Linked DNA regions of Homo sapiens: region 1 is linked to region 2. Evidence: fine-mapped expression QTL. A gene starts in region 2. The other region holds a variant in brackets. All regions are shown on one strand. Distances are from middle to middle.

Region 1 (2,917 bases), 150 kb before region 2:
TGCAGAGGACAAAACTAGGACCAATAAATGAGGTTACAAAGAGACAGAGTTAAATTCAAGAGAAGAAAAAAAATGAATAAAGTTTGAAATTTGTGAATTAGGAGTTGAAGGAGTCCTTTCTGTTTCCAGCTTCAGTTTATATTGTCTGCCTATGGCATATGGTGTTGCCTCAAGCAGTGTGATGGCATTCCAGCAGAGGGTGGGCACTTACACTGACAGTTGTAAAGGAGATTTCTCCATTAGGTGGTAGATTAGTGCTGTGCCCTACTCTAAGGTTTTAAGACTTCTCAACATCTCTGCCTATCTATACCACAAAACACCTCTAATAGATATATAAATGCTAATTTTTCATAAGGGAAAGAAAGCACAAAAGATGTATTATCGGTGTGAAGGTTTGGTCTAACTGCTCCAACAAATGCAATGCACACACATCAGGACTCAAACAAGAAAGAAATTTGTTTTGTTGTGTTGTACTTTGTTTTTCAGAAATCAGTCCAGTGTAAGCATTAGAACTGCTTTGCTAGTTTCTCCTCACCTGTGGCTCTGTTGTCCACAACACACTTCCCTCACATGATCCAGTATTGTCACTAGATCTCCTACACAAATTGGAAACAAGAGTTGTGACAAGATCTTTCAAGAACACACACTTTTAATAGTGCCAAAATACTGGTCATTCTGCAGAGGCATTACCCTAGAGGGCCGTTATCCTATGTCTCTCCCCTGCATTGATATTTCTATCCATTTTTGAGGATTCAAAGATAGACATCGGATAATCAAGATCATTGGGTTAAAAAACAATAACAGTAAAGTTTAGAAGAGAATGAATGGTTAGTCCACAAAACATGGAATGTTGGATCAGGATTGGAAACTGAGGCTTCAGAATCCCTCTGCAGTCAGGGGAGTCCTCTGAAAGCCCCCAAAGCTGCTTGGACTCTCTCATCAGCATCATTGTGGAGACACCTTACCACCCATGATATGAGTTTCGAGAAGCACCAGACTTCACCAATGATGAATAAAACTTCACTTCTGATGAATAAAACTGTCTCCAGGCAGCTGTAACCAGCTGCCCACTAGACATAAAATAAGACATGTGGCAGCTGGGAAGACTGAGTAGCCAAAATAATGCATTTGACTTTCATTGCAAGAGGTACCTCTCCATCAAGAGGGATTATGCAATAGGGGCCCATATCATGCTCATAGCCAAGGCAAAACCTAATATGGAAGTCCCGCTCATCTATAAACTATTGCATAGGTTTCCCAGGTTTTTCTCAGAACACCCAGGATGTCATATAAATAAGATTCTGTAGTAATCTGTATTGACTGTCCTTGAAATCCCAGCTCGAAGTGTTACACACATTCTGGCAAAGGATGCAAAGGAAAGCAAGTGTGTTCTCAGTTTAAAAGTGGGCCAGCGGTCTGGATAGTTATTACTTGGGATTAAGTTTAACTACACTACCTCTTTTTCATTCTGATACCCTTGAAAATTTACTATTTTGTATTGTTTCAACCAAACGATACTACCTTCAACCCATAT[C/CTTTATTTTAT]TTTATTTTATTTTATTTTATTTTATTTTATTTTATTTTATTTTATTTTATTTTATTTTATTTTACTAGAGATAGGGTCTCACTTGGTCGCTCAGGCAATCATAGCTCACTGCAGCTTCAAACTCCTGGCCTTAAATGATCCTCCTGCCTCAGCCTTCTGAGTCTCTGGGATTATAGATACAAACAACCACGCTCAGCTCTCAGTCCATATTTTTAAGACAAAGCTCAAGAAAATAACTAAGGCATTCTCTAAATTTGCTTAATATCTAGGATAGCCTAAATCCACTTTTGGAAACTATTAATAAATCATCAATTTCATATGAGATTGTCCTAGATCTTCACAGGGCCAGATATCTGATGTAATGTAAGTTTATCACTTAATTTGACACAGATATAAAATGGAAGACTAATGTTGATGCAATTTAAGGCAAGTGTTACTATTATTAGTCAGTATGATTTGGATCTCCTTTTATTCTCTAAAGAAATGACAGAAAAAATCATGTATTTAACTGTTTCTTACAGAAAAAATCATATTAGAAAAAAACTAAAGCCATTTTTCATAGTTTTCCATTGAGACTAGACATCCTTAAAACTTTGCCCTAATATCTTTTTAGGGGAAAAGGGTTGAGAGCTTTTGGATAATTAGACATTTCATGGAGAACAAACATAAAATTCCAGACAATTTTTGAATATACTGTTCTTAGTTCATGTAAGGCGGGATTTTTACCATATAAAAATGAGACCCCCTAGACACTGAATTTGCTAAAATATACAAAGTCACTATTAACAGCCTTGAAATAAAATCTTTTAAAGAGTAGGAACACAAGTTGCTGTTCACCTCTCATCAGCATCGGCTACTTTTACTGTCATCTAGCATTTCTAGATGATGTTTCTCATAGTGTCACCTCTAGTCATTCCTTTATCTCACATGGTCACAGAACATTTTCTTCCAGATGAGAGAAAAGATCAAGTTAGCCATCTAAAGACCAAAAATACTAAAAATTTTGAGAGTCTAGTTTGAAACACAAAGTTATCATGCAGCTTTTAAATTATTTGAAATAACGAACTGTTGCTTTCCAAGAAGTCACAAGTTGCATTTTGGAGCTGAGCTTGCAAATCTGCCCCAGGATGAAAAGTTGGTGGCTCTGATTTGTAGAGTATTCATATTTGGGCACATCTGTTGTAATGTATCCTAGCTTACATGATGGCAGTTGACAGCCCTGGGCACCTGCTGCATAAATATAAAAACAGCACAATGAAAGTAGGTGTACAAAACTTATAATTTTAGGATTATTAAAAGTTAAATGCGGAAGGCAAACCTGTCAGACTTGTAGGGAGAACAAAAGGATAATGCATTTATGACCTAGAGAACAAAAGGATTTC
Region 2 (2,917 bases):
ATGCATTTCTCTGGTCACTGATGTCGGCTCATTGCCTGGCAAATCCCCGGCCCCTTCTGCCTTTGAAATTCCATCTGGGCAAAGTCACTTACCTTCTGGGAACACCACTCTCATTTTGAGATAGCTGGTCGTGAGTCTGATTATGGATGCTTTGTCCAGCTGCGAGGTGATAGCCGAGGGCAAAGGCAGTAATTTAGCCAGTTCATAAAATTCACTGTTTTCCTTCTCCCTCCTAGTCCGCGCAGCATTTTTGGACTTTTCTTTCATTGTGTCTTGTTCCCCCTTTCTTCTCACAACTTAAGCTCCGCAGATTCATCCAAAACCAAAAATAAACTTTCAATTAGAGATCATATTTGGCAAAAACATAAAACATACTTTGAATAAAGAGGCTGAAGTATTTGCACCAAGAACAGTGTATTGATGGCAGTAAAAGACCAGCGGGGGTGAACGGAAAATATGTTCTTTGAAAATTCGGGATGCAGTATAGGAAAGTTGCTGATCCACCGAATTTGGGCGATCCACCGAATTTGGGCAATCCTGAGGGTCGTTCAGGGTATCAAATGCCAGTGGGACCCCTGAGGAGCCAGCCTTTTCTTCTACTGCCAGCTGCGAACCCTGGTCCTCGGAAAATCGACATAATAATCCCTGACGTTTGCTCTTCAGTCTCGCGGCATTTAAGGTATCTCCGAGCCCCTTTGGGAAGAGCAGGAACCCCAGACAACTCTTTCAAGGCCCTGTGAAGACAACAGCATCAGAGCATAAGAGATCAGCGGCTCCACAAGTACTCACACACTCGTCCCAATTCCAAAAACACGGCCGGAAAGGGCCTCAGTGCGCCTAGCCAGGCGTTTTGGGTTTGTTTTTAAAGAAACGGGTAAATCGGCAGCGAGACAGCCCCCTGCAAATAATGCTGGCATTCCCTCACCCATGCCAGCCGCATCCTCCAGACCCCTGGGAAGTTGCCCAAACAACAAAATACATATTTCTGAAGACCCGCAAGGGATCTTCCGCCGCGGATCCCCGAGTCCGCGCCCAGGCCGGGCGCACGTCCCAGGAAAGCAGGTTTCCGCAAATCAGAATTCCTCCAAGGCGAGGCAGGGGCCTTTCAGCTCCCTACCTTGGCAGATCTGGACCTTGGCTACCTCTTTAACTTGGGTCTCAAGTCTGAGGGATTCCTCAAAAAGTGACACTTACACACCAAGTCTCTCGGGACTCCCAAGGCGACCCAGCGCTCTGGCTGCCCAGCAGGGGCTGCAACAAGCGGGGCCCAGCAGCGCCAGGTTAACAGGTGGCGCGCTCGCGACAGCCCCTCGCAGGCTCCCCCGGGGGTGGGAGGCGCCGCGGCCTCTCCCACACCACCGCGGAGCTGCGGGGCTGCTGGGCGGGCGCGGGGCGTCTTCTGCTTCACCTACCTTCAGTCCCCACAAGCGGCAGAGGTTTCGGGGGCGCCCATCTCTTAACTGTTCTCATGCCTACCGTCCAACCCAGCGACACCGCCGGCCTCTCCGCTTCCCACCGGCAGAGAGGAGCAGAGCATTCCCGGCTCCCTTTTCTGGATCATGAATTGGAGGAGGGGTGCGTGGCAGAAAGAGGAGGATGCAAGCTTTGGGACGAGTGAGGTGATTTTAGAATCCTGGTCCTCCGTAGTTGCTACGAAGCCAGTTCACTATTATTCCTAATTGGAAGCCGAAAACTGCCCCCCGTAACTTCTTTATAGCTTAAGGGTTTAGCTTCAACTTCACTCCGGGGCCGCCTCTCTCCCGCCCTCCCTCAATGCCACTCACAAGCCCCCTCGCCTCCCATTGGCCTGGCGCGGCCAGGGGCGAGGCGCTCATTGGCCAATAGGGCTGAGTGACACGAGTCGGCCCCGAGCCGCCCTCCGCGCGCCCAGGCTCCGGGCTCTGAATCTTACTACCCGCGGGACCGCTGGACTCCTAATGAGCTCAGGGTGCCGGGTCGGCGCTGTCCGGTTGCCGCCGCTGCTCGCGGCCTCCTGGGCCTTCCCGACGTCGTGCGCGACCCGCGCTCCTCGAGCTCCCTGGGGTCGGGTGGTTGAGCGCTCAGTCCAGCGCGGCGGCCCAGCAGAACCGGGAACGTCCGGAGGCAGCGGAGGTCGGGCCTGCGGGTTAGGTCTACCGGCGGAGGAGGCAGGGTTCGCCCAAAGGCCCATCCCGCTGGCAGTCGCTGGCCGACGGCGTGCGCGAGGCCGGTTTGGGGAGTTATTTTCTCTTTCTCGTTTCTCTGAAACCATGGCGACACGGAATTCATTGCCAGAGGAAATAAATACAATAACTGTCTTTAAATTAATCCCAAAGAAGTGCGTCTTTTTCGAAATGGCTTGGGTTTGGGGCTGATTTTTTTCACCGTGGAAACTCGGCCGGGGAGTTTTCCTATGGGGAGCAGCTAGGGGGACACTAGGGGAAAAGCTTACATTTCAGGGCAAAATAGAATGATTGATATAGAGATACATAGCTCCCAACAGTCCTTTATCTTAAACATTAGCCAACTCTTTGTCGGGTTTTGTTTCAGGAAACAAAAGTCCAACATGATTATTCCTTACAGAAAGGATACAGTCTACATGAATGAACTTAACGATGCTCGCGGTTCCCTAATAGGAGCTGTTTAAACAAACGCTCACCAGGACTCTTGCTGACTAATTATCTTTTAGAGACCCTCTAATTTGAACCGCCTTCTCTTTCTCTCATCTGAGAAAACACAACAGGTAGCATCAAGAAAAAGTCAAATTGTCCCAAAAACAATTGTTGTCCTCACGAATCACCCCCTACAGACTCGACTCCCGGCTTGGTTTTGGTACGCCGGTGACCAGATTCGGCTCCTAGAGGTGCGTTTGGAGGGAGTTGTTTCATCTACCATAAAAATCAGTGAGAACACCAGTGACGGGGCACTCATCCTCTCG

Direction of the effects. Positions count from the first base shown, and alleles are read on the strand shown. Sizes are in standard deviations (SD) of each study's normalised expression.
In carriers of allele C in region 1, the expression in skeletal muscle of the gene that starts at base 1,720 in region 2 tends to be lower than with CTTTATTTTAT alone (moderate effect, 0.56 SD a copy in FUSION).

Evidence for each region. PIP is the estimated chance that this variant, and not a neighbour inherited with it, causes the effect.
Region 1: its variant is fine-mapped to the expression of SIM1 in skeletal muscle (FUSION, PIP 0.95).

Annotation. Positions count from the first base shown.
Region 1 is chr6:100,308,212-100,311,128 of GRCh38, forward strand. No RefSeq gene overlaps it. Among named protein-coding and RNA genes, the nearest start is that of SIM1-AS1, 84 kb to the right of the region's middle. The variant C/CTTTATTTTAT (reference allele first, on the strand shown) is at 1,535.
Region 2 is chr6:100,463,202-100,466,118 of GRCh38, forward strand. It overlaps SIM1 (SIM bHLH transcription factor 1), which reads right to left and starts at 1,720. Exons shown (of 12, transcript NM_005068.3): 1 at 1,413-1,720; 2 at 93-734. The coding sequence starts at 267.